Regions from separate parts of the Homo sapiens genome. Here all the other regions are linked to region 3. The links come from fine-mapping of genetic effects on gene expression. A gene starts in region 3. Each other region holds a variant in brackets. All regions are shown on one strand. Distances are from middle to middle.

The links.
Region 1: its variant is fine-mapped to the expression of JAG1 in whole blood (INTERVAL, PIP above 0.99).
Region 2: its variant is fine-mapped to the expression of JAG1 in fibroblasts (GTEx, PIP above 0.99).

Annotation. Positions count from the first base shown.
Region 1 is chr20:10,470,905-10,478,969 of GRCh38, reverse strand. All of the region lies in intron 2 of SLX4IP (SLX4 interacting protein), which reads right to left. Among named protein-coding and RNA genes, the nearest start is that of SLX4IP, 40 kb to the right of the region's middle. The variant C/T (reference allele first, on the strand shown) is at 4,233.
Region 2 is chr20:11,192,234-11,200,298 of GRCh38, reverse strand. No RefSeq gene overlaps it. Among named protein-coding and RNA genes, the nearest start is that of LINC02871, 170 kb to the right of the region's middle. The variant C/T (reference allele first, on the strand shown) is at 3,892.
Region 3 is chr20:10,668,996-10,677,060 of GRCh38, reverse strand. JAG1 (jagged canonical Notch ligand 1) reads left to right here and starts at 3,062. Exons shown (of 26, transcript NM_000214.3): 1 at 3,062-3,611; 2 at 4,055-4,360. The coding sequence starts at 3,531. RefSeq lists silencers at 2,440-2,839, 6,270-6,319, 6,370-6,419.

The sequences.
Region 1 (8,065 bases), 200 kb after region 3:
AATACGCCTTTTTCTCCAAGACTGACCCCCTTCTTTCTTTCACCTTCCCTCTTTGCATACCATCTCACCCCATCCCACTTGGTAAGCCAAAGGAGCTCAAGAATCTCTCCCTTGGGAGTGGCAGCTACCTCTAGAAGAGCTTAGAAGAGTTGGTCAGATTCATTAAGCTTTTACAAAGGAGTCTGGGGTCCAAAATTGACCTTTGACCAGCACAGTCATCAACGCATCTGTTTTCCTAAAGGATTTTTTACTGAGGGGCAAGGACAATAAAGAACAAGAATCAGAGGCTCCAGGGCCCCTTCTTTAACAATGTTACCTGTGCTGCCTACCTCCCAAGAGAACATATTTTAACATGGTTAGTAAATGTAATATAGTTAATATTAATAAAATGTTTAAAATTACAAACCACTATAAGTAGTTGTGTTATTACTGGACAAGGATGATTCTAAATTAATATCTTCACAAGCTTGTAGCTAGAGTTTCGATCTTCATCAAAGCATATGCCTTTGAGTCAGAGACCCCAGGCTTGAAACCTGCTTTTCACATTCTCTACCTCCCAACTGAGCAAATTACTCAATCTCACTGCCTGTCACATCTGTGACATGTCAACAGTAACATGTACTTCACAGTGTTGTGAGAACTAAACAGGAAAAACACCTACTGAACTAAATAGGAAACACATGAAAATGTGAAAAACACCTACTTTATTAGGTAGTCAATCTTAGCTCCCTTTCTTTTGCTGTCACAAAAAAAGCTTTTAAAAGAGAGCTTGGCCGGGCGCGGTGGCTCACACCTGTAATCCGAGCACTTTGGGAGGCTGAGGCGGGTGGAATGCCTGAGCTCAGGAGTTCAAGACCAGCCTGGGCAACACGGTGAAACCCCATCTCTACTAAAATACAAAAAATTAGCCAGGCGTGGCAGAGTGCACCTGTAGTCCCAGCTACTCTGGAGGCTGAGGCAGGAGAATTGCTTGAACCTGGGAAGCGGAGGTTGCAGTGAGCCAAGATCACGCCACTCCCACTCCAGCATGGGCGATAGAGCAAGACTCCGTTTCAAAAAAAAAAAAAAAAAGGGAGATTGTAACAAGGAACACCACAACACACAGATTTCACATCTTAAGCAGCTGAAATAAAATGCCCAAAGAGGATGAGAAGGAGCCTATATAATCTTAAAATAGATATGTTTCCCAGCTGGTATCTTTGATTACTAATTAAGCTAAGGCTTATTTATTTGGTAAATGCTTACCAGTTGCCAGGCATTGTGTTAGAAACCTTTTATGTAACAACCCCATGAAGATTGACACTTATTATCCCCATATTGGAGAGAAGGAACCAAGATCCTAGAGATGAGAAGCAGTCAGGTCCATCTGACAACTGTGCAATAGCCTAACAAGAATTCCCTTCGGCCGGGCACGGTGGCTCACGCCTGTAATCCCAGCACTTTGGGAGGCAGAGGCAAGCGGATCACCTGAGGTCAGGAGTTCAAGACCAGCCTGGCTAACATGGTTAAACCCCATTTCTACTAAAAACACAAAAAATCAGCTCATGCCTGTAATCCTAGCACTTTGGGAGGCCAACGTGAGCAGATCATGAGGTCAAGAGTTTGAGACCAGCCTGACCAACATGGTGAAATCCCGTCTCTACTAAAAATACAAAAATTAGCCAGGCGTGGTGGTGCATACCTGTAACCCAGCTACTCAGGAGGCTGAGGCAGAAGAATCACTTGAACCCAGGAGGCGGAGGTTGCAGTGAGCCGAAATCATGCCACTAAAAGAGCGAAACTCCGTCTCAAAAAAAAAAGAGAATTCCCTTCACAGTCAGGTCAGAAATCTAAGGAACACTGGTATCTTTAGAACCTAAGACACCAAAAACCTGTGTCTGCTCTTGATACGGGAAAACCCACATTAATGCCCTAATAAGACCTCTTAAACTTCGAATAATATTTCTTAGAATTTAAACTGAAGACTGAAGGAAGGAGCTAAGACTCTTGGTTTTGCTGAAATTTGGAAAATCTAGCTTAACTGCAAAAGCATTAATGTTATGTAGTACCATTCACTTTTATTAAACACACATTTAGTTTGAATACTAGTTAATTTAAAAGTGCCCACAATGTTAAAGATAGTGATGGGTAAAACAATGTTCATTATATTCCTTCCCTTTAACAGTTTTACATTTTTCCATTGAGTTTTTTTTATCTACACACACACACATCTCCCATGATCTCTGCAATAAGAGGCTGATTCATGTAAATTTTACAGAAAGCACCCTTCTCTGGATAATTTTAACTTTTCCTAAAAATAAATATTCCAGTCCCCAACCCAAGGAGGGCGCAGCAGATCAAGAATGCACTGTCATGGCAGGTGGAGAATCAGTCATTATGGGAAGTGAAACAGACACACGCGGCATAGGAACTGATACAGCAACATCTGATTCCATCCAGCAACCTTTAAAAATGTAATCATTTTATCAGCTGTTGGTAGACTTTGCACAATGGCTAGCAGTACTACTTGGTGACAATTAAAAATACTAAAGCTACAATGCATTTTTTGTTGTGGAGGAAGTACAAATGGAATGCTGAGTCAAAAGCAAATATGCACACTCATAGATGACTATGGGACACTTTGCAATGCATTCAGTGCTTCAAAATTTAAGATTTAAGACCAGATTCATGCTACTGAAGGTTGGGTCCTCTCCCAACTCACAAGATCATCAAAGAGTAGCCATTCAAAAAAGTTTAGTAGAATGACATCCTCTTTGACACTTTTCTTGACTTTTACAATATTTGGTTTAATTATCATAACAGATATATATATACACACACACACACAGTGAGGGATGTGAAAAACCTTAAAACACTTCAAAATGCACACCGATAATAAAACACATTGCCAAGTTGTAAGTAAAGCAGTTAATTATGACCATCGTCATCCCCAGGAACCAAGAGAAGCTTCTCAAGGGTCAGATTATTCCAGCTACCTCTTGGATGCCCCCGAGGCCTCTCTACAAACTGTAAGTGCTCATTACTATGTTCTGTAAAAAGGCCTGTCTATGAGACTGCCAAAAAGAAACTTTCCAGCAAAGTCTCTAAATTGTAAAGTACTATCATGTAACTTCTGGGGGAATCTATGCCCCTCTTTCTGACAGCTGTCATGCTCAAGGGTGGGCATGGGCAGCCATGTATTTACCATGTGACACTGCCCCGTGCCACAATCGATGAAGCAAAAGTGGACATCTGCCCAAATTCACCTCCAGAAGTTTGCTATTGGGGCAGAAAGTGCAGCAGTTTTGTAGGATATGTCACTTGGGAGGTGAGGAGCCACTATCTTCTGCAACATGAACAAAGGAGCAGAGAGAGGCCAGCAGAGGGAGAATAACAAGGAAGATGCAAAGACCAGAATCCCACTTCTCAAAGAGAGGCCCACAGTGAAGCTGCCTCAGGGCCATGGGCAACCTGAAGCTACCTCCAGGCCCTCACCAGCTCAATAGCACACTGATGCCAGTATGCTGAGACAGTCACACTCCCTTATCATAAACTGCCCATTTCAAGTTCTAGTAGTTTGCGTGGGTGTTACTTCCTTCCAAAGAGCCTTGACTAGCAGTTACGCTAGTCTAAGCTAGTTATTATGACTCTAAATAAGACACTAAGTTCCCTTGGGCAACTTCTGAGATCCTCACTTTCCACTCCCCAGGGATTCTCATCTCATCACTGAAGGAGCTGAACAAGGATGTTTTTCAATGTTAAATTCTATGCATGACCTCAATACACCAAACTGATGGTGGCCGAGCTGTCGGCTGGAGCAGAGACAGGGATCTGGCTCTGGCCCTCCACAGAATGCAGTGCTTCCAGGGAACTCTGCTGAAAGCCCTGACTTGGATGCTCTCTAGGGATCCTGGCTTAGCCTTGGCAGATAATATTCCCAATGAAGAGCAGCTTTACTTGAGCGGCTCCACGTGCTTGCCCAAAGAAGGCAACAGACAGAGGATAAGGAGTGTTACTCAAGTCTGAGGACCAGGAAGCTGGAGAAGATGAGACTCTCTCACCACCCATGGCCTGAACCCACGGCTCCCTGAGGAAAAGCAAATGCTTCCAGTCCTGGATGGTGGCGCCAGAGGGAGGCCGAGGTAAGCTATGATACAGAGATCAGTGGCCAAAGGGCAGCATCATCCCAGGGAACACCCCCAACACCTCTGATTCAGCAGCCCCGATTAGATGGAATAAACTGCTTTTCACTT[C/T]GGAAGTTTGGCTGCAACATAGTGGTAAGGGAGGGAAAAAAAGGAAGTGAACAAGGCGGCCGGCGGAAGTGGAGAGGCTCCAGCCCCAGCCCAGGCCCCCAAGGCCCATCTGGCCTTCCTTCTGGGGTTAACCATGATCCTTATTTGACCACAAATGGGAGCGGGGGAAAAAAGAAAAAGGAAAAAACTCCACAGAGATGTAAATGGAGGACATCAATACCTAAAGTAAAGAAGGGAAGGGGGTCTAGGAAAGAATGGCTCTTAAAAGCAAACTCCAGAGTTCAGACATTGTATGGGGCCTCATTAAATGGCATTAATGACTCCCACGAAGTTAGGGCTTAGAATATATCTGCATAGCTGTGTTATGTGATCTCTCAATATTATTTTGGACTGAAGAATATCTTGTTCAGAACGATGGGCTTTTGTAAGAAGCTCCTTCTTACTTGACAACTTGAAATATTGTTAGACCAGCACACCATTCATAAGCTTTTAAAAAGAACTAATCAGAACTCAGGCAGCTTTGGCCAGGAATGGTGGCTCATGCCTGTAAACCCAGCACTTTGGGAGGCCAAGGAGGATGGATCACCTCAGGTCAGGAGTTCAAGACCAGCCTGAGGCCGAGCACCGTGGCTCACGCCTGTAATCCCAGCACTTTGGAATGCTGAGGCAGGTGGGTCATCTGAGGTCAGGAGTTTGAGACCAGTCTGGCCAACATGGTGAAATCCCATCTCTACTAAAAATACAAAAATTAGCCAGGCATGGTGGCGTGTGTCTGTAATCCCAGCTACTTGGAAGGCTGAAGCAGGAGAATCGCCTGAACCCATGAGGCGGAGGTTGCAGTGAGCCAAGATCACGCCACCACACTCTAGCCTGGGCGACAGAGCAAGACTCCTTTCAAAAAAAAAAAGAAGACCAACCAGCCGGGCCAACATGGTGAAACCCCGTCTCTACTAAACATTTTTTAAAAATTAGCCAGGCGTGGTGGCAGGCGCCTGTAATCCCAGCTACTTGGGAGGCTGAGGCAGGAGAATTGCTTGAACCTGGGAGGTGAAGGTTGCAGTGAGCCGTGATTACACCACTGCATTCCAGCCTGGGTGACACAGTGAGACTCTGTCTCAAAAAAAAAAAAAAGAAACAGAACTCTGGCAGTTTTAAGAAGAATTGCAGAATAAGCTGCTTCAAGACACACTCTGGCAGAAAAATATTAACCACAATGATTATCAATATTTATGACAATGAAGATGAATATTACTAATAATGCCTAACACTTACTAAAATGGTTACTTGGTACTGTGCTAAACACTTTATACGAATCCTTTTATTTAACCCTCTCAATAACCAGTACAATAAAATCACTGCAATGACTGTGGGAGATACTAATGCTGCTGGTCCAGGGAATACACTGAGAACCAGTGCTTTAGAGACAACAGAGATTTTCTTTTCTCCTACTGCCCTTAGTTGCTGAGCTTTCTGACCCCAGTGGTTTCAACCATTTAGCCTGTGAGTAGAAGTGCATGCCCAGTCTCACCTATCAGGCCTGGTTCACAAGCTAAGTACCACCACAGCGTATAACAGCCAGACCGAATGCTGGCCATGCCCCACAGCTATTTTTTTCTTCCAGACAAAAGTTACTAGAATGCCAAATAACTCAGCTGTTCACAGACCAAAATGCATTTTTCAAATTAAGTTATTTTTAAGCCTGCTTTCTTAATAGCAACAATGTTCTAAGGACAATTTATAACAACAAAACAGATAAACAAACTTAACAGTTTTGTTTGAACTCCTGGTCTTAGAAAAATAAGCCAGCATCTGCAAAACACAATTAAACACCTAAACATTTTTATACTTGAATGAAACAAAACAAAACAAAAAAACCTCAATGAATATCTTTAACTATTGTTGGCTTTAAAAGGCCTGTATCAGGTAACAAAGAAGGGAAAAGGGATGGGTGCTAACACCTTCTGGGTCGTGACTCTGTGCTAAGATGGACAATTATTATAGAAGTGAGTTAACATTAATCCTATTTAATTAACCCTATTATTTAACAGATGTGTACAAAAGCTCAGAAAGACTCAAGTCACTTCCCAAGGTGCTGGTCAATCTTAAGGCCCTGGTTCAAACCCAGGCCTTTCTGCCTCCAAAGGCCAAATTATTTCCATTATACCATGCACACAAAAATCCCTTAAATAAAAATGTATAGTATTACCAGGCCGGGCATGGTGGTTCACGTCTGTAATCCCAGCACTTTGGGAGTCCAAGGCACGCAGATCACGAGGTCAGGAGATCAAGACCATCCTGGCTAACACTGTGAAACTCTGTCTCTACTAAAAATACAAAAAATTAGCCGGGCGTGGTGGCAGGCGACTGTAGTCCCAGCTACTCGGGAGGCTAAGGCAGGAGAATAGCGTGAACCTGGGAGGCACAGGTTGCAGTAAGCCGAGATCGTGCCACTGCACTCGAGCCTGGGCGACAGAGCCAGACTCCATCTCAAAAAAAAAAAAAAGTATAGTATTACGGAAATGTAGAGTTTGACAGGCCCTTAGAAACTCCCTAATTCAACATCTCATTTAATAGATAAGAAAACTATAATAAACAAATAAGAAAACTACACTAAACAATTTCCAAAGATGGCCACCAACAATCCCTTCCCTCCTCTGGAGGTACGCTGCTCCTTCCATCAAGAGGCAGTTATTTCCTCTCCTCTTGACCTTGTGATTTGCTGCCCAATAGAATACAGTGGAAATAATAGTGTGCCAGTTCCAGAGGTAGCCCTTAGGAAGCTGGCAGCTTCCACTTTCATGTGCTCTGGGGAAGCTAGATGCCATGTTGTAAGGGAGCTCAAGCCAGATTACTGAGTGATGAGACACCTTGTGAAGAGAGAGGGTATCATTGAGAAGAACTAAACATGTGAGTGAAGTCTTCTAGAGCTTTGTAGCCTGGTCAGTAACCAAATGCATCTGAGTGATTGACCCCAGCCAAAGACAAATAAAGCAGAAAAACTGCCCAGCTGGATTTTCTGACCCATTGAAATATGAGAATAGTGGGGCTTCTTTGTCACACAGATACAGATAACGGAAACAAAAGAGGCTAGCTGACTTGCCCCTAGATAGGAATCAATAGCAAGGACTAAAATCTAACAACCCTAACTTCTAATCCTGACCACCTGCCACTGTAGCCCAAAGTATAAACTGATTAACAAATAGTGCACCCAACAGACTGGCTGCCCTATGGCTTTTCCACAACATCCCATTCAGAAACATGTCTGAAAAAAATTACTGGGCTCATCTGGTCATAACCCAGCTATGCTGGGTGCTCTGGTATCTCTTTTTCACTAACCTTTATTTAATGATATTAGTTTGACACATTAATTTCTCACTGCAAACTACCTGAGGTTAGGGATGGGCAATCATCAGCCTCATCTGTGTCTATAGTGCCTAACCCAGGGCCTTGCATGATGAGGATAAATAAAGATTTGCTAATTGAGCCCTCACATATGAAAAGAATTAGACTACTCCTCACTCCCAAGAATTATGAGACCAGGAACAAATAAGTCAAGGCCAAGTCCCTCAAATACCATACAGCATGTCACTGTAAGATAATAAAATAATTACTGACAGCCTAAGACATGCATAAAATGTTATTTTCCCACTTTCACAGCATTATGTCTTTTATATTAATTTGATATCCAAAAGAAACCCTGTAAAACAGACACTGCTGTTAATCCTACCTTATAGCTGAAGAAATAAGATGCTCAAAGGGGTAATAAAATTCACCCAAAGTCATCCAGTTTTCAAAAGTGAAACCACAACATGCATTCAGGAATCCTGATTAAA
Region 2 (8,065 bases), 520 kb before region 3:
GGAATGGCTTTATGTGTACATTTTAAATCTCTCATAACCTCCAACCACTATATTTATTCATTATTAGACCTCTGTAAACGGCTGCATTGTATCTGAGTTGAAAATATTCATAACAAATGATCAAGGCATTGATTTTCCATGTGCTTCACACATATAATTTTATCTAATCTTCATAAAAACTCTATGACATGTAAGTTGTTATAACTTTCATTTTATAAATGAGAAAATTAAGGAATATGGAGCTAATGTATCCAGACCCAAAACAGAAAGTGGTACAAACTGGGGTTTGGTTTCAGGATGTTCGGCTCCAGAATTCTCATTTTTAACCACTTCACTATACTACAGTTTCAAAAGTGGTTGAGGTAATTGCTTAACTAGTATTTTCAAAATAATAATAGTAATAAAACAATGAAAAATGGTAAACAGCAGTTAAAGAGAATCAGGCCTTTTTGGCAATAGAATGGAAACATTCATTCCTTGTAGTCAATACCCTGTTTTGTGCATGTTTGTGTGTGTGTGTCTGTGTTTGTGAGTGTGCATGATGGTGATGTTTTGTCTCTTTTTCTTTAACCATTTTTTCTTGTAAAATCATATTTTCTCATTCTATTATTCTTACTGTGCTGTGAAAATGACTACGCAGGAAGGCCCTATGCCCCTTCCTGACTGCTGCAGCCCCACTTTCTCTCCCTCAATGTCTCCTGAATGACATTTTCTGTGCAGTTCCAGCAGTTCAGCATGCTCTAATCTTGATAACACCTGCATCAAGAATGGAGGGAGTGTGCTGAGCCAGGCCCAAGCAGGCAGGCTTTGGCTATCAATGCTTCCTCTAGAAGCTGGCTTTTTTTTTTTTCTGGCTTATGTATTCTTTTCCATTTCTGGCCTCATTCCTCCTTGCCAGCCAGTCCTCCCTCTATTCACATGTCATGTGGATCCTTTATTGATCCACATGGACAGTTCTTTATTGGACAGTTCTTGTTAGTTGCATGATCATCATCGATGACAATAGTTCTACCAGGCCAGTAAGGTTATAGGATTGCAGTCTTGCCATGCTCCACAAACATCGAAGTGCCATTCTGTTGCATGTACAATAGCCAAAGTTTGCCACGATTCTTTTTGACCACAGATGAATTCCAGGGAGGTCCTTGTTGAGTAGAAAATGAGTGGAGGCTCACTATGGGTAACCTCTCACCCAAAATTGTCAGCAGCAGTGTGCCCCATCACCAGGAGACAGTTCAGAGCCCTGAACTGGGGACACAGTAGCAACTTTAACACCCAAATCCTACATCATCCTTCAGAATTAGAATCTGGCAGATGCCTAAAGGAGTAATGCCCTATAGATTTAGGATGGTTCATGAGAAAGCAGACTAGCTCTTTCTGGATTTGGGACAGAAGGTACAAAGACTCAATGAGGAAGAGAAAAAGTATTGCTTGGATTCCTAAAGCATGCATTATTTTCTACCCCCTTGTATTATTCTTTCTGTCTCTCTCATCTTTGTGAAGAATTAGAGAAGATTATACGGGTCGGTGAGGAGGGCAATATTGTTATTACAATTATTTCTTCTTTTCTTTCTCCTGAAAAACTCAATGTAGCACCAGCTACATAATCTCATAAAACCACAGAATGACAGACTTGGTAGTTTCTTTAAAATGCATCTAATTCAACCCTTCACTTGCCATATGAGAAAAATCAACCCAGAGAAAATAATGACTTTGTCAAGTTTACATGATTTTCTTGTGGCAGCATAGATGTAAAAATCTAGCTCTTTAGACTTCAGGTCCAGCAGGTGCTTGTTAAAGTTCTGATACTAGAAGGATTAAGCATGTAAAGAATTGCAAGCCCTGAAATGCTGCCTCCTTCCCACAGTGACCATGGATGAGTGGCACTTTATTGGGCAAGTTATGGTGATTCTTTATGTCTCCATATCAGTCCTTGAAATAGGTAACCAGGGGAGTGACCTACATACCCTTCATCCCACTCCAATATAGTCTAGAAAAGGATCAAGTCACCTAGTATTTGTTCACATGCCTCCTTCTCAGAGAGGCCTTGCCTAGGGACCCTTTATGAAAAAGAAGCACCCCTTTCCCCACTCAGCACCCTTCCCCTCAACTCTCAATATTTGGCATATGCTGCTTAATTTTTCTCCACAGCACTATGTATTACCCAATGCATTACAGAGTTGTTTATTGTTTGTTTCTTTCTCCCAAATGTCAAAATAACACAAAATGTAGAAGTTGCTTGAGAGGAACTGAGAAAAATTCCCTACTAATGTCAGGGCTGTCTGGTATTAACTTAAGAGTGCCATAGAAAAACAAAATGGGTTCTTATGCAAAGTGAGTGGGAGTGAGGAAAGAAAGAGAATGAAGGTAAAGCCAAATGAAGGACTGAAAAATCATGTAAGATAAAGGCCACTATCAGACTGGCTCACTAGCAAAGATGTAAAAAGATGTAAATGAGTGACCAAAAAAAAAAAAAAAGTAAGACTTGGAACAGTAAGCAGAGGCAACTGCATCTGTTATTTATTGCTGTGATAATAAATAACACACATAACAAACCAGCCCCAAACTCTGGCTCAAAGCAATAAGATTTATTGAGTTTTTGTGTCTGTAGTTTGGTGATTTGGCCTGGGCTCTGCTGGGCCCATTCATATTTCAGAGGTCAGTTAGCCTTTGGCTGATTTAGGACAGCCTTCGCTAAAACCACTGGGATGACATGGCTCTGTCCCTCATGTCTCATCCTACAGAAGGCTATTCAGGGCATAGTGTCATGGCTGCAACTTACAGGGATTGAGTGGGCAAGAGGAAACACACAAGACATCTCGGGGCTTAGACAAAACTGGCACAGTGTAACCTCCACTATAGGCCCAGCTGTGTCACAAGGCCAATCAATAATCAAAGAGTAGAGAAATAGACCCAGACCTCACCTCTTGATGGGAGGGGCTTCAAATAGCACGGATAGAGGAGAGGCAAAGAATTGGGATCATAATTACAATCTATCTTTGGTCTTATGGCATAGAGCAGGAGAATCTCTGACCCTCTCTAGCACCTCTCCCTGAAGGTGAGACTATTCCCCAAGGGAGATGGGTTTTTGGGAAACTATCTACATGTATATATTCAAATATCTTTGTTTCATATATGTATATGACACAAATACACACACATATAACGCCACTTCCTTTAATACTGTCTTACAAACAGCTCGTTTCAATGTACCCTCCAAAGATGTTGAGTGAGGTAGGCTTCAAGCCCAGTAAAATGAGATCATAAGGAAAATGTAACTTGGGTCTATTTTGGCAGCATCACCACGATGACATGAGAGGCTGAAGTGTACATGGGTGAAGAGCACTCCATCATCTCTCTACCTCAGTCTCCAGAACTTGTCTGGTGTCTTAAGTTATTTATTTTCCACTTTAGCTTTCCCTTCCCCAACCTACAACTGCCTATTTATTCGTGTTGAAGACATTGTGACCCTATCGGACCCGAATCTCAGATGTCCTCTCAAACTTGAGACAGCAGGCCCAGTAATTTCCCCCACCCCACTGAAGTGGCTGGCACCAGTGTGCACCTGGTAGGCCTGCATGTCCCTGGGACTACCTTTTAATCAGGCCAAAACCCTAAATAGGCCCCGCCATCCAGCCACCAGCATCCCTCAGTAGCCTTCAGATTGATACAGAGCTGGTCATTATTTAGAAAGGAAAAAAACTCATTTAGGCCTCTCTGTCTCCTCTCTGCATGCTTATTATTGTAGGTGCAAAATAAAATATGAAAAAGGAAAACCAAAGGCTTGCTCATCCTCTATGACTCTACAGGGGAATTCCAATCACAGGCAGAACACCCTGTCCCTTCCTCCCACCTTTTCCACCCAGCAGAGGAGGAGGAACTGGCCTTGGGGAG[C/T]GAATCATTTTCCTGTTCCACTATCTGTAAGCACATTTTCCAGATCAGTCCTGACTTTCCAATTTCAGAAATCCTCCACATCCAAATGAGGTCCAGTATTGGACCAGCCTCACAATGGACTTCCTACTTCTCATAGGTAAAATGTTCGTCTGCCTGAAAGGAAGCGATAGAGAGAACATGCACACTGTTGGCCAATAAACAGAGCTGCGCTCATGGCAGCTTGGTTTGGGGGGGGGGCGGGGGTCAGGCAGTTATTTTCCATGGGCTGTTAAACAGGAAACTTCGCTGCAGTTAATGTAGCAGGAGAGTTTGGCTAGTCTCTGAAATAAACTTTTGAGAGCCCTTAAGATAACTGTCGCTCACCTTCCAGACTCATTAATCATCGGCAAACTGAAGCTATCCAGTTAGGAGGAAATGAAGAGAGGGCTGTAGAATTCATGTCAAACAGATCATGCTCTTGAACTGGCACCAAACTCCAGAAACTCCAGTGAGAGGCAAATTGTAAGCCAAGGTGCCAAGTTAAATCCTAGCACTGTGATTGTGTGTGTGTGTGCTCGCACATGTGTGTGAGAGAGAGACAGAGACAGAAAGACAGAGAAATATAGAGTGTGTATACTCTATAGAAGTATAGAGTGTGTGTGTGTGTGTGCATGTGTGTGTGTGAGAGAGAGACAGAGAGGAGGGGAAGAGAGAGGATTGAAGACTAAAGAAATAACATGCCTCTGAGATCAAACACTTAAGACCTCAACTCTCAATTCGCTTTCCTTTACTCCCATCTCCAATGAGAATATATTACCCTGTCTGGGGGAAATAGAGTGAAAAGGTGGGAGAGACACAAAAAGAAATAAAGCTACAGAGTCCTGTGTTCCTGACTTCCTCAGAGAGCAAGGTAGATCTTGAAGGACTTCATTTTTCTCCATTAACTTTTATGAAGCCTGACTTGGCTGTAATGTTGTGTAAATGCCAGCCAGTTTCCAGCCAGGCTTTTCCAAGTGCGTCTAATTGCCCACTTTATCACAGGCACTATCAGGTAAATGGTGTTCCACCTCCGCTGGGCCTGCCTGAGGTTGACACTCAGGACTTGTCAGGCAATGGATCACAGAGCCGGCATGGGGGCCCCTCGCCCTGCATTCCTGCATGGGGGTGACAGTAAATTATGACATCTGCCAGGAAGATCAGAACACGGCTGTGCTACCGGATGCACCTAAGCTACACAACTAGGAAGGCTTTTAGGATGTGACTAGAGATGTGTCTGAAAGCTCTTAAAGGGACAAAGAGCCTCTTTCCCCAGCAACAGTGCAGCAGAGATGATCCCTGAACATTTACTTTTCCCTTTGATGATGCTTAATGACCTATTTTTATGTTTGAGTGAATAATGCTGCCTTGCAGTTGTAAAGGGCTCCAGAGTTTAAGTTGCACTTATATCCATCCTCCCAAGATCCTCAGAACCACCCAGAGGGACAGTCAGCATCATGCCCATTGTCCAGGATGAAAAAAAACAACTGAGATCTCAGCAGGCTGAGTGATTTGGCTTGGGTCAAAAAGAACATGAGAGTGCTGTGGCTAGGCCTCAAACCTAGATCTCAAACCCCAAAACATGTGTTGTTTGCTTTACCAAGATTTTTCGCTCCAAAAGTGTTACTGCTTATTGTAGCTTTGGAAGTATGGATTATATTGTTGTACATGTATAGCTTCTATCTTACGTCTTCACAGGACTGACACTGAAGCTTAATATCAAAACAAAACCAAATGTTTTAAACAAGAACAAGAAAGCACACCAAAAATCAAGAGGCAAAAATGAGATAATCTCATTTCAGTGAATTTTCACACAAAAAAATTGTCAACCTATAAGTTTGTAAAGAGAAAAGGGGGTAGGTTCATAGGTGTAAATACCATAAATGCTGACCTAAAATGGCCAAACAACTCTATTTGGTTATAATACAAATTGCTCATTGGAGGCCTGAGGCTCAACATTCAAGACTGTATGCCTGGCACCTTGACTTGTAAATGAGAGACAGACTTTTGACCAGTCAACTCTACACAAAAAGTGGATGATGCAAAGGCACCAAATTTGAATTCATTCCCTTCATGATGTCTTATTTGTTGATGACCCTGAGCAAGTCATCTAACTTCTCTGGGCGTAATTTTCTCACCTTAAAATGTGGATAAAACTACTTAGCTTGTAGAACTGTAGTAAGGACTAAATGAGGTAGTGGATACTTAAGCACTTTGTAAATTATACAGTAAAATTATTTTCAGTAGAAATCACCTGGTATTTATTGAAACTTGTGCCATGCCCTTGGGGATTAAAAAAGAAAGTGTCAGTAATGATTTTATTCTGCATTCAGCCATCATTTATTGAGCACTTGGTATATGCAAGGTGCTCTAATAACAACACTGGGATCCTCTAAATAGAACACTACATGATCATGGAGAGTAGAAGTTAAGTTGGTCAAGGTCAAAGCTACTCCAGATGTATGGATAGGTCTGTATTTCTTTCTTCCAAAATTTATTGAATAGCCACCTGCTATAATAAATTTATAAAACAATGTCTGATATATGGTGTGTGTATGTACATGCACACAGATACAAATAGATTATATTACATTGTGATATATGTCATGACAAAATAATTTTATGAGCCTATTTAAATGATAAAATTTTCTGAAAAAGAAGTTCCAGAAATTTTAATAGAGGCTTTTTGTTCTACAACTGAAACTATTTATACATAAATGCCAAATATTTCCTAATAATGGTTCAACATATAATGGCTCAGATAATGTTTTTCCTCACTGTAGATTTTGGCAATATTGGAGAGAAGTAAATAAATGGATACACTTAACTTAAGTGACCAGGGAATGGAAAAGCTGACAAGTCATAGTAAGCTTGTATGACTGGTAGAATGAGGTTGGTTCACCACAACTAGAAGCCATAAGAATCCTAGCAGAAAAATATGAATGGATGTGGCATCTTCTAGCCTTTCTTGAGTCACAGTCACTATTTCAAAACACTAGTAAAAAACCACCTCAAATACCTAGTGAAGATTTTGAAATACAGTGTGTGTGTGTGTGTGTGTGTGTTTTAAAGATTAAGTGGTTTCCTTGCCATTCACTCTCAAGTTGCAATCCTGAGGTACTTAACCACCACCCCATCTCCCTTCTATTGGCTAAACCTTCCCAAAAAGAATTATTATTATTAATTATAAAATATGTAGAAAATATATAGTCAACGCTGACAACTGGTGTAGCTCAAGTAGGAGTGTGAATATAATTAATATGCAGTATGTTTTATACTCTACTGTAAACAATTGTTTGAAGTTCTACTAAAAAATTACTTGTCTGGTTCTCAGTTAAGATACATTGAGGACATTATTTTCATGCTAAAGCACAGGCTCCTGTGAATCTTGTCACTTAGGAGGCTGGTATTTCACTGAAAACATTCTACCCCAATCTCCACAACTGCCCATGTCCTTCATTGCAGTTAACACACCACGAGAAACACAATGAATGGTATGACCAGAATGGAGGCTTTAGTTTTTCAAGTGGTTTGAAAAACATTGTCCTTTGATTCTTTTATGAGGGTTCCATAATTTCTTGGGGTTTTCCAACTGCTTTTTGATCACTGTCCCTGCCAGCTGCTCTTCTCAGACAGAAACTGGGATACTTGACAGTGGGACAGTGGTTGTGGTAAATTAATAAGGGGAAAAAAAATAAACAGAAGGCCCTTTTCCCATGTTTTCTTTCTTTCTTTTTTTTTTTTTTAACTTTGCAGATCTGTTCACTCTAGAGTTAATTTGGAGCTTGCAGTGCAGGGACCCTGTCTGGCTTTGGTCATTTATCATTCTCTTCTGATGTTGTTCCTTCCTTAGAGAGTCCACAAGTGAGACTCACAGCAGGCAAGTGAATGGATGGTCCTCTCTCCAGGTTCCCACATTTTTCCAGGACATCAGGCTTGCTGGACGCAAAGACAAAGCAAAACTTTCTAGGATTTGTACAGTCCAATCCCTTAGGTTTAATATCATCTAAATTAATAATAGGCAAAGTCTTTCTATAAATAGCTGTATAGTAAATATTTTTGACTTTGCAGGGCATATGGTCTCTATCACAGTTACTCTACTCTGCCTTTGTAGTATAAAAGTAGCCATAGATAATATATCAACAAATATATTGGCTGT
Region 3 (8,065 bases):
CTGCTATATGTTGTTGACTAGATAAAAGTGGGGCAAGTTTTCTGGGAAAAGAAAAAATGAGGCATCCATCATCTTTTTAGAATTAAAGGAAAAGATATCCAAGGATGATGTTTGAGCACACGAGACAGGTCAGATAGTAACTGACTACAAGCCTCTCCCCTTCTCTCAGGTGTAGGTATGACAGCTAAAGATGGCATTTTCCACAGGAAGGTTGTTCTGGAATATTCATTTACACTTGGAGGCTATACCCCAAAGCAGGACAAGCCCTGCCAAGGGGGAATCTCTGTATTTCAGTTCTCTCGGCAGCAGTTCCTCATTCTCTAAGGAGGGGGCCTGACAACCGGCTTCAAGGAAGCAGAGGATAGAGCTTCCACTCAGTGTCTGTTGTGGTAAACGTGACTGGCTTTTTGGGGGAGTCCCAATTATTTGGAAGAGCCCCAACTGAAAATTTTCAAAAGAATTCCCTCTAGCCCACAACTGCCTTCTCTAAAAGTGGGTTCCCAGGCTCAGGAAGGGTGTGGGACTCTGTGCTATGTGACATAAAAATTTTGTGTTTATCAGTGATTTGACATTCTTGTTAGGTGTAATCAGGTAGTTTTCACCTCTCAGAGTTTATATTTTCTTTCCTATCAGTCAAATGGGCTAAATTCACTGGTGGACTGGAGGTGACACCAGCTTGCATGTGGCCCAGATTGCAACTGGTGGCACCTGCAATCTCAGGTAGCCCTTCTAGGTGAAGCCAGGTGGAGATCTAAACACTTTAACTAAAGGTCTGGCTCCGCAGCCTCTTTCCTGAGAGCTGTGGGGGGCACAAGGCACAGAATTAAAACAGGGTCCGACATAGGGAACTCCAAGGAGTGTGCTCTTTAAGATCACACCAGCCTTTTTCAGCACCATTTTGCCTTTTTTTTTTTTTTTTTTTTTTTTGAGATGGAGTCTCGCTCTGTCGCCAGGCTGGAGTGCAGTGGCATGATCTCAGCTCACTGCAACCTCCGCCTCCCAGGTTGAAGCTATTCTCCTCTCTCAGCCTCCCGAGTAGCTGGGACTACAGGTATGTGCCACCACGCCCAGCTAATTTTTGTATTTGTAGTAGAGACCGGGTTTCACCATGTTGACCAGGATGGTCTCAATCTCTTGACCTCGTGATCCACCCGCCTCGGCCTCCCAGAGTGCTGGGATTGCAGGCGTGACCCACAGCTCGCGGCCCATTTTACTTTTAAACCGTTATTTAGCACCCAAACTCAGGGATACTTGGGAGTAGAAATTAGAACGGGACAGATAAGTGGGGAGACTGGTGTTGATGGAAACCTCAGTGAGAAAAGTGTAGATGGGATTACAGTTGACAACTGGTTGCCTTGATTTAGGATAATTGGGGAAAGGGAGGCTGGGGCACATTGAAACACCCAGGTTGTCGCTGCCTACCCCAGCTGCTAACATGACCAGCTGTAAACTTGCTCTGTTCTTAGAAACCTCCCTTCCAAAACATGGATTCTCCCGCCAGTGCTCAAGATGGGACACATTACCACTAAGTAAGCACTTTTCTTAGGAGCATTTCTTAGGCTGTTAAAATGCCAAGACTCCTAACCATCCTTGGTAGCTTTGAACCTATGTAAAGAGGTCAGTTAGCTGCCCTAGTTTATTCCTCAGAATGATGAGATTTGGCACTGAAAATATTGTTCATACTGAGCCTCCCATCAAATGCAATAAGTAGATAACCACAAATACCCACCCTTTTATGCTCATAACTCAGCATGTTGGAAACTATTTTCCCTTGACCTATTGCCAGCCCATCACGCCCCACACCCAGGAGAACTCAAGCCCCAAACCGGCCGCTGAATAGTCACGCTTTTCTGCAGGACATACCTACTATTAGGGCCAAAACTTTGTCCACCCTTCAAAGGAAGTCGATGTTTCCATATAAAGGTCCCCTCAAATGCAACAGCAAGCCCGTGGGAGAGGGGTTAGCAGAGGCTACGGCCAGCCCACGGGCTTTCTTCGACCTTGATTATGACCAGGAGTGTAGCTGTTAATTGCGAGGCTTGCCTCAAGGTGGAAAACAGTATCGGTTTCCACTGCCACCCCAGAGAAGGCAAGTTCCGCGGCTGGCGGTGCTGGGGACACGGTCCCTCCCAGGCCCATCTCTTGCCACCCAGAGAGCTGCTCGGAGGCCGCCTACAGGTGCAATCCCGGCACTGCGGCCGGGGCGTCGGGCCGGGGAGGGCGTCCAAGCCCACCAGCATCTCCGCCGGCCCTTCCCAAAGCCTGAACAGGGCCCCGGCGTGCCCGCCGCCTTCTACCCCCGGTTTCCCCGCGCCTCTGCCCCGGCGCGGTTTGGATAGGAAGCTGGGAGCCCTCCCAGGCTCCGCAGACTCGGATTTGGGAGGGGGTGGGACGCGGCCGAGGCTTCCCCTCGAATCTGCGGCAAGCCTGGCTCCAGGAAAGTTTTTCAAAGTTCCCAGCAGCGTCTGCCCAGGTCGCCTCCGCGGGGCGAGCAGACGGCGGCAAGCGCGCCAGCCTCGCCGCCGCCTCTGCCGCCAGCAGAGCGCTCTGGGCGGCTCGCTCGCGGGAAGCGGGCCGAACTCCCGGCGGGCAGGCAGGCCCTCCTCCCGGGGCGAAAGCCGCAGCTGACGCAGGCGGTTCGGAAGGCGGAAGCTGCCCCGCTCCGACCGCTCAGTCAGCGCCGCGGCGCCTACACCTGGGGCCCCGACGCGCGGGCAAAGGCGCACGGCCCGGGGCGCCCGAGGGGGCGGTCCCCGCTGGGGGCCTCCAGGCGTCCCTGAGCAACGATCCCTTCCAAGTACCTCCCCGCACTCTCCCTTCCCTCCTGGCCCGAAGCTCCCGAGGGCGGGGGTTGGTGTGGGGCCCTGGTTCTTCTACGCCGCCCTGAGCATCCCGCTGCCCCCAACCCCTTCCAAGTTCCTCCTCGCACTACCCCCTCCCCAGCAACGTGAAGGGGAGGGGCGTGCCCAGGGTGAGCACGCCCTCTCATGAATATTAATAAGCGCGCATGCGCCCTGCCCGGCGTGCTGGGTAGAGGTGGCCAGCCCCGGCCGCTGCTGCCAGACGGGCTCTCCGGGTCCTTCTCCGAGAGCCGGGCGGGCACGCGTCATTGTGTTACCTGCGGCCGGCCCGCGAGCTAGGCTGGTTTTTTTTTTTCTCCCCTCCCTCCCCCCTTTTTCCATGCAGCTGATCTAAAAGGGAATAAAAGGCTGCGCATAATCATAATAATAAAAGAAGGGGAGCGCGAGAGAAGGAAAGAAAGCCGGGAGGTGGAAGAGGAGGGGGAGCGTCTCAAAGAAGCGATCAGAATAATAAAAGGAGGCCGGGCTCTTTGCCTTCTGGAACGGGCCGCTCTTGAAAGGGCTTTTGAAAAGTGGTGTTGTTTTCCAGTCGTGCATGCTCCAATCGGCGGAGTATATTAGAGCCGGGACGCGGCGGCCGCAGGGGCAGCGGCGACGGCAGCACCGGCGGCAGCACCAGCGCGAACAGCAGCGGCGGCGTCCCGAGTGCCCGCGGCGCGCGGCGCAGCGATGCGTTCCCCACGGACGCGCGGCCGGTCCGGGCGCCCCCTAAGCCTCCTGCTCGCCCTGCTCTGTGCCCTGCGAGCCAAGGTAGGAGCCCTTCTCCGGGCCTCCCTCCCAGCCGTCCTCTCCCTCCCCTCGCGGCGCCCTGGGCGGTTGAGCCCCGCGAGCAGGCTCGGCAGCCCTCGAGCGCCCGACTCCTCGCCCCTGCGCCCGAGCGGCTGCACCTGGGCTGAGCGCGCCAACTCCCCCACGGGAGCCCCTGCCTCCTGAGGGTGACCCCTCCAGGCCGGACAGGGGCGCGTTCGCTCCGCTGTTGCCCCCCGGGAAGTCGTCGGATTTCTTCCGCACTCGTGCATTTTTTTTTTTTTTTGCCCCGGAATCATGTTGAGTCCTTGAACGTAGTTTCGCAAAATTATTTTCACTCGGCGAGGAGGGCTCGTCGGGGCGGGGAGTGGGAGGGAGTCGCCACCTCTATACTCGAAGAAAACAGCTTTCTCCCGCGCTGACCTACCTCCTTCCCTCGCCGGCAGGTGTGTGGGGCCTCGGGTCAGTTCGAGTTGGAGATCCTGTCCATGCAGAACGTGAACGGGGAGCTGCAGAACGGGAACTGCTGCGGCGGCGCCCGGAACCCGGGAGACCGCAAGTGCACCCGCGACGAGTGTGACACATACTTCAAAGTGTGCCTCAAGGAGTATCAGTCCCGCGTCACGGCCGGGGGGCCCTGCAGCTTCGGCTCAGGGTCCACGCCTGTCATCGGGGGCAACACCTTCAACCTCAAGGCCAGCCGCGGCAACGACCGCAACCGCATCGTGCTGCCTTTCAGTTTCGCCTGGCCGGTGAGTGACTACTCGGGAAGGAGGCCGGGCGGAGCCTCACACCCGCGCCTGGCCGAGCCCTGTTATCCCTTGCGAGAGGGATTTAAAGGGCTTTGGCTTGAAACTAGGCGCTAACTGGGGAAATCTCTAGGGGTGGCGGGTGAGGGAGCCGGGACACTATAGTTAGATCTCGGCTGGGGTAGTCGAGGTGGGTCCCATTCCTGCTGCTATTTGCTTAGTGCACAAAAGTGGGGATCCCAGAGGGTTTATGGGACCAGGCTCCTAGGAAGGCCGGTGTAAACTTGCAACTTGAAGTTCCCAGAGTAACTCTCCCGGCCCCAAGCCAAGAGATCGTTGTAGCTGATCTCTTTGCTTAACTAATTAAACCTGGTGCGCCGTGGAAGGCGACTCGGCGCAGTTCTGGCCTGCGAACGCCGTCCAAATTGGCAACCTCCCCTTTCCCGTGAACGGCCGGGAGGGCGGGTGTGTCCTTCCTGGAGGGTGTGGGGGAGTCCGTTTCCCGCTGCTCCCCGGGAGATTTTAGTGTGTGCGGGGGCGCTCTCCAGGTTCGGCTTAAGGGCCGGGGGCGGCCGCCGCAGGAGGAGGTTCTTGGGGCCCTCACAGGAGCTGTAGACCTGGGAACCCCCGCCCGCTGCTGGCCCCTTCCTGCCCCCGCCCCCGAGTGGTGTAGCTCTTGTGGCCTCACTTCCAGCGGTTCCCGGGCTCTGGAACAGCTGTGTTTGCAGACTTCCCCGGGAAGGGCGGGTGCACGGCCCCCGCAAGCCTTCGGGGGCCGTGCCAAGGCTTGGAAGGGGTGGTCTTCTGGAGGTAGTGCCTGAGGGTGTAAGTGATAGGCCCTCATCCCCCCGCCCCATTCCGCCCCCAAAGGAGCTCGAGGCCCGGGCCCAGCTGGCAGATCCTGCAGCGAGGCCCTTGCAACATCCCAAAATGGGTGGAAGGAAGATGGGTGCGATTGCAGAAGGGGAGGAAAGGGAAATGTTGGGGGTGTGCCCTCTGCCTGGCTCCTGCTGTCCAGGAGGCATGACTCATTGCCAAGACTGGGGCTTGGCCTAGCCTGTGCTGGGAGGGTGGGTGGTGAGAGGGGGAGCTCGGTGCCCCAGAGCATTGCTTTCCACCACGTGCTCTAATGGGGTGCACTCTGCTGCCTCCTGTCCGCCGGCTTAGGTTGTGATTCTGGGAGGAGACAGAGGGGAGACTATCTGGCTGTGTCTGTGTATGAAGCTTGGGGTGGCTCTTAAAATCCACGATTACAGGAGCTGGCATTATAAAGTGCCCTCTGCTGTGGGTGAGATAAGACAGTTATCAAAAACTGCCATGAAAAGGGGTTTATAAAAAGAAAAATTAAAACCAACGCTGTCTGTGAAGCTCTCTTGAGGTCCAAGGGCTGTTTCTGTTGTGGGATTTCATTTTTACCAAGAGTATTTATCTTGTTTGTTAATCCCCTATTAGGGAGAACTTTAAGCTAAAGAGTCTGGCTGCGTTTAAATCTGGCTGGCCCAAGCTGACTGTGAATACTCAAACTGCCCTTGAACGTGTGTTTGGAGTTTAGGGGGAAGGGGCCTGCAGGTGGTTCCACCCTCCTGCCGGAGGATCTGTCTGGAGCCCCTCGCTTTTCACAAGACCATAAAAGGAATCTTATTAGTGATGTGGAAAAGCAGCAGCCTGGCTGAGGCTCATTTTGGAGAGTAGGGTCAGAGGGATGGCTAACATGAAAACAAGGAGGCTTGCTCCCTCGCTGGCCAAGGAAAAGTGACCTAGAAAAGTGCGTCTGTCCGCTTTTGACACTTGGTCAGAGTCCTCAATGGAAAACGAGCGGAAATAGTGTGGGAGGGTAGGAGAGGCGATTGATTTGCATTTGCTGGTGCTCTTCTGTGGTTTCAGGCCCCACGGGTCACCAACCATGAAATAGACTCTCGGCTTTTCTCGAATGGGGGAAGACCGATGGGGCACCACTGAAAATGTGGTTCTTTTGAAGTTGGGACAAACGCATGTATCACTCATAAACAAGTCTCCACCCTGATGCCCCAGAAAGGCCTGCTGTGAAACATAAGATTTAATTCTCAAGAGAAATTGGAGTTTAGGTGTATTTGTTTTTCTGTATGTGGTTGGAGAAACGGCACAGTCCGTAACTTTCAAGAATGATTCCAGGCTGAGTAGAAACGTAACTGAAACACTTAAGTAGCTGAGCGAGTATTTAACTAGAGGGCACAGCTTCATTTAGTTTGGCAATTAACTATGTCTTTTAAAACTGATTTCCTTGAATGGGAAATAAATGAACTTAGTACAGAATTCAAGAGATAGCAAGAAAAGGATATATGGTTAAAAACAAAACAAAACTCCAAACCACCTTGGGCTCCCAACCCCTAGCAGGCACAATTACCATTTGCATGAGTCCTCCCAAATTTGCTGACGCTGGGTATCAGCAAAGGGTGCAGGGGTAGGTCAGTGTAGAAGGTCATGTAGTTCATGCTTTTTGTTTGGAATTATGACCCCTATCCAAGCAACTGTTCATGTTCTAGAGAGGACGAGGAGGAAACGATTTGGTCAGATATGAAATACAGTCCATGTTCTGGTGTGCATGTGAAAGGCTTTGTAGAGGTGGCCCTTCCTGTCATATATCATATCTGAGTATGTCCCACGTGGTGTCCCCTGCCCCGGCTCTGGTCTTGGGGTAGTTTTTCACCACTGGCTTCTAATTCTCATACTGTTGCTGCTCTAAGGGGCTTAACTTGCAGCAACTATCTGGATTAATGATTCTCAAATTGGGGGACCAAGTGATAAGAACCATTATTGTGGGAAGTAATTGGGCTTAACAGGAAATAATTTAGGAATTACCACTTATAAATCACTGAAACGGTTAATCTGTACCTCCCAAAATTAGTGCTAAATCCCAGTAGTGCCTGCTTATTAAAAATACATTAGTGTAATTACCACTACTCATCTCCAAAAGCTTTTTGGGAACTTCAGAACCCCAGTTAGCTGTATTGCTGCATCGGTGGCCCCAGAGTGAAATGAATCTAGAGAAACGTTAGGGGAAGAAATTGGGGTATCTGGCTTATTAGCCTCATATTTAAATTCCATTGATCCTATTAAAAGACTTGCTGAGATCAACTTTTTTTTTTTTTTTTTTTTTTTTTTTTTTTTTTTTTTTTTGGAAAATCCAATGAAACGTGATTCTTCTGTGTGAGGGATGCCAGCTTTGGCCCCCTTCATGCTTCAGGCCTGAATGACCAATTGCCACGATGCTAATCACAGAATGTAATTGACAGGCCCTTACTTTTATGCCTTTTGCTGTCTTTTCCAGTCCCTGAGCTTCTGTAGATATGGTGTGGGCACATGGAGGGCTTAAGGATGGGGTTCTGATTTGACCTGCCTCCTTTCTGCAGCCAGGATTTGCATCCTGCCCGTGTAGTCAGCATGTATACAAAGAAAGAGCATGTGTGTACGTATGTGCTCAGAGCAAGGGACTTTCTGCATGTGGAGAAAACGCCTTTTGCCCTAAGAAGTCTACCTCAAACCAAAGGGATGAAGTGATGTATCTGTGTTGCAACACTGGGCTTGGGGGAAAGTGAAGCTGTGCTTGCTTTGAAAGAGCTGTGCTAAGTATCTGCAGAATAGCTGCTCCAAAAATGGAATCTTTATTCCAGGTACTTGGTTTCTAATTTTTTTTTCTCTTGCAGGTGTAACCTTCTGTGTTTTCTTTCT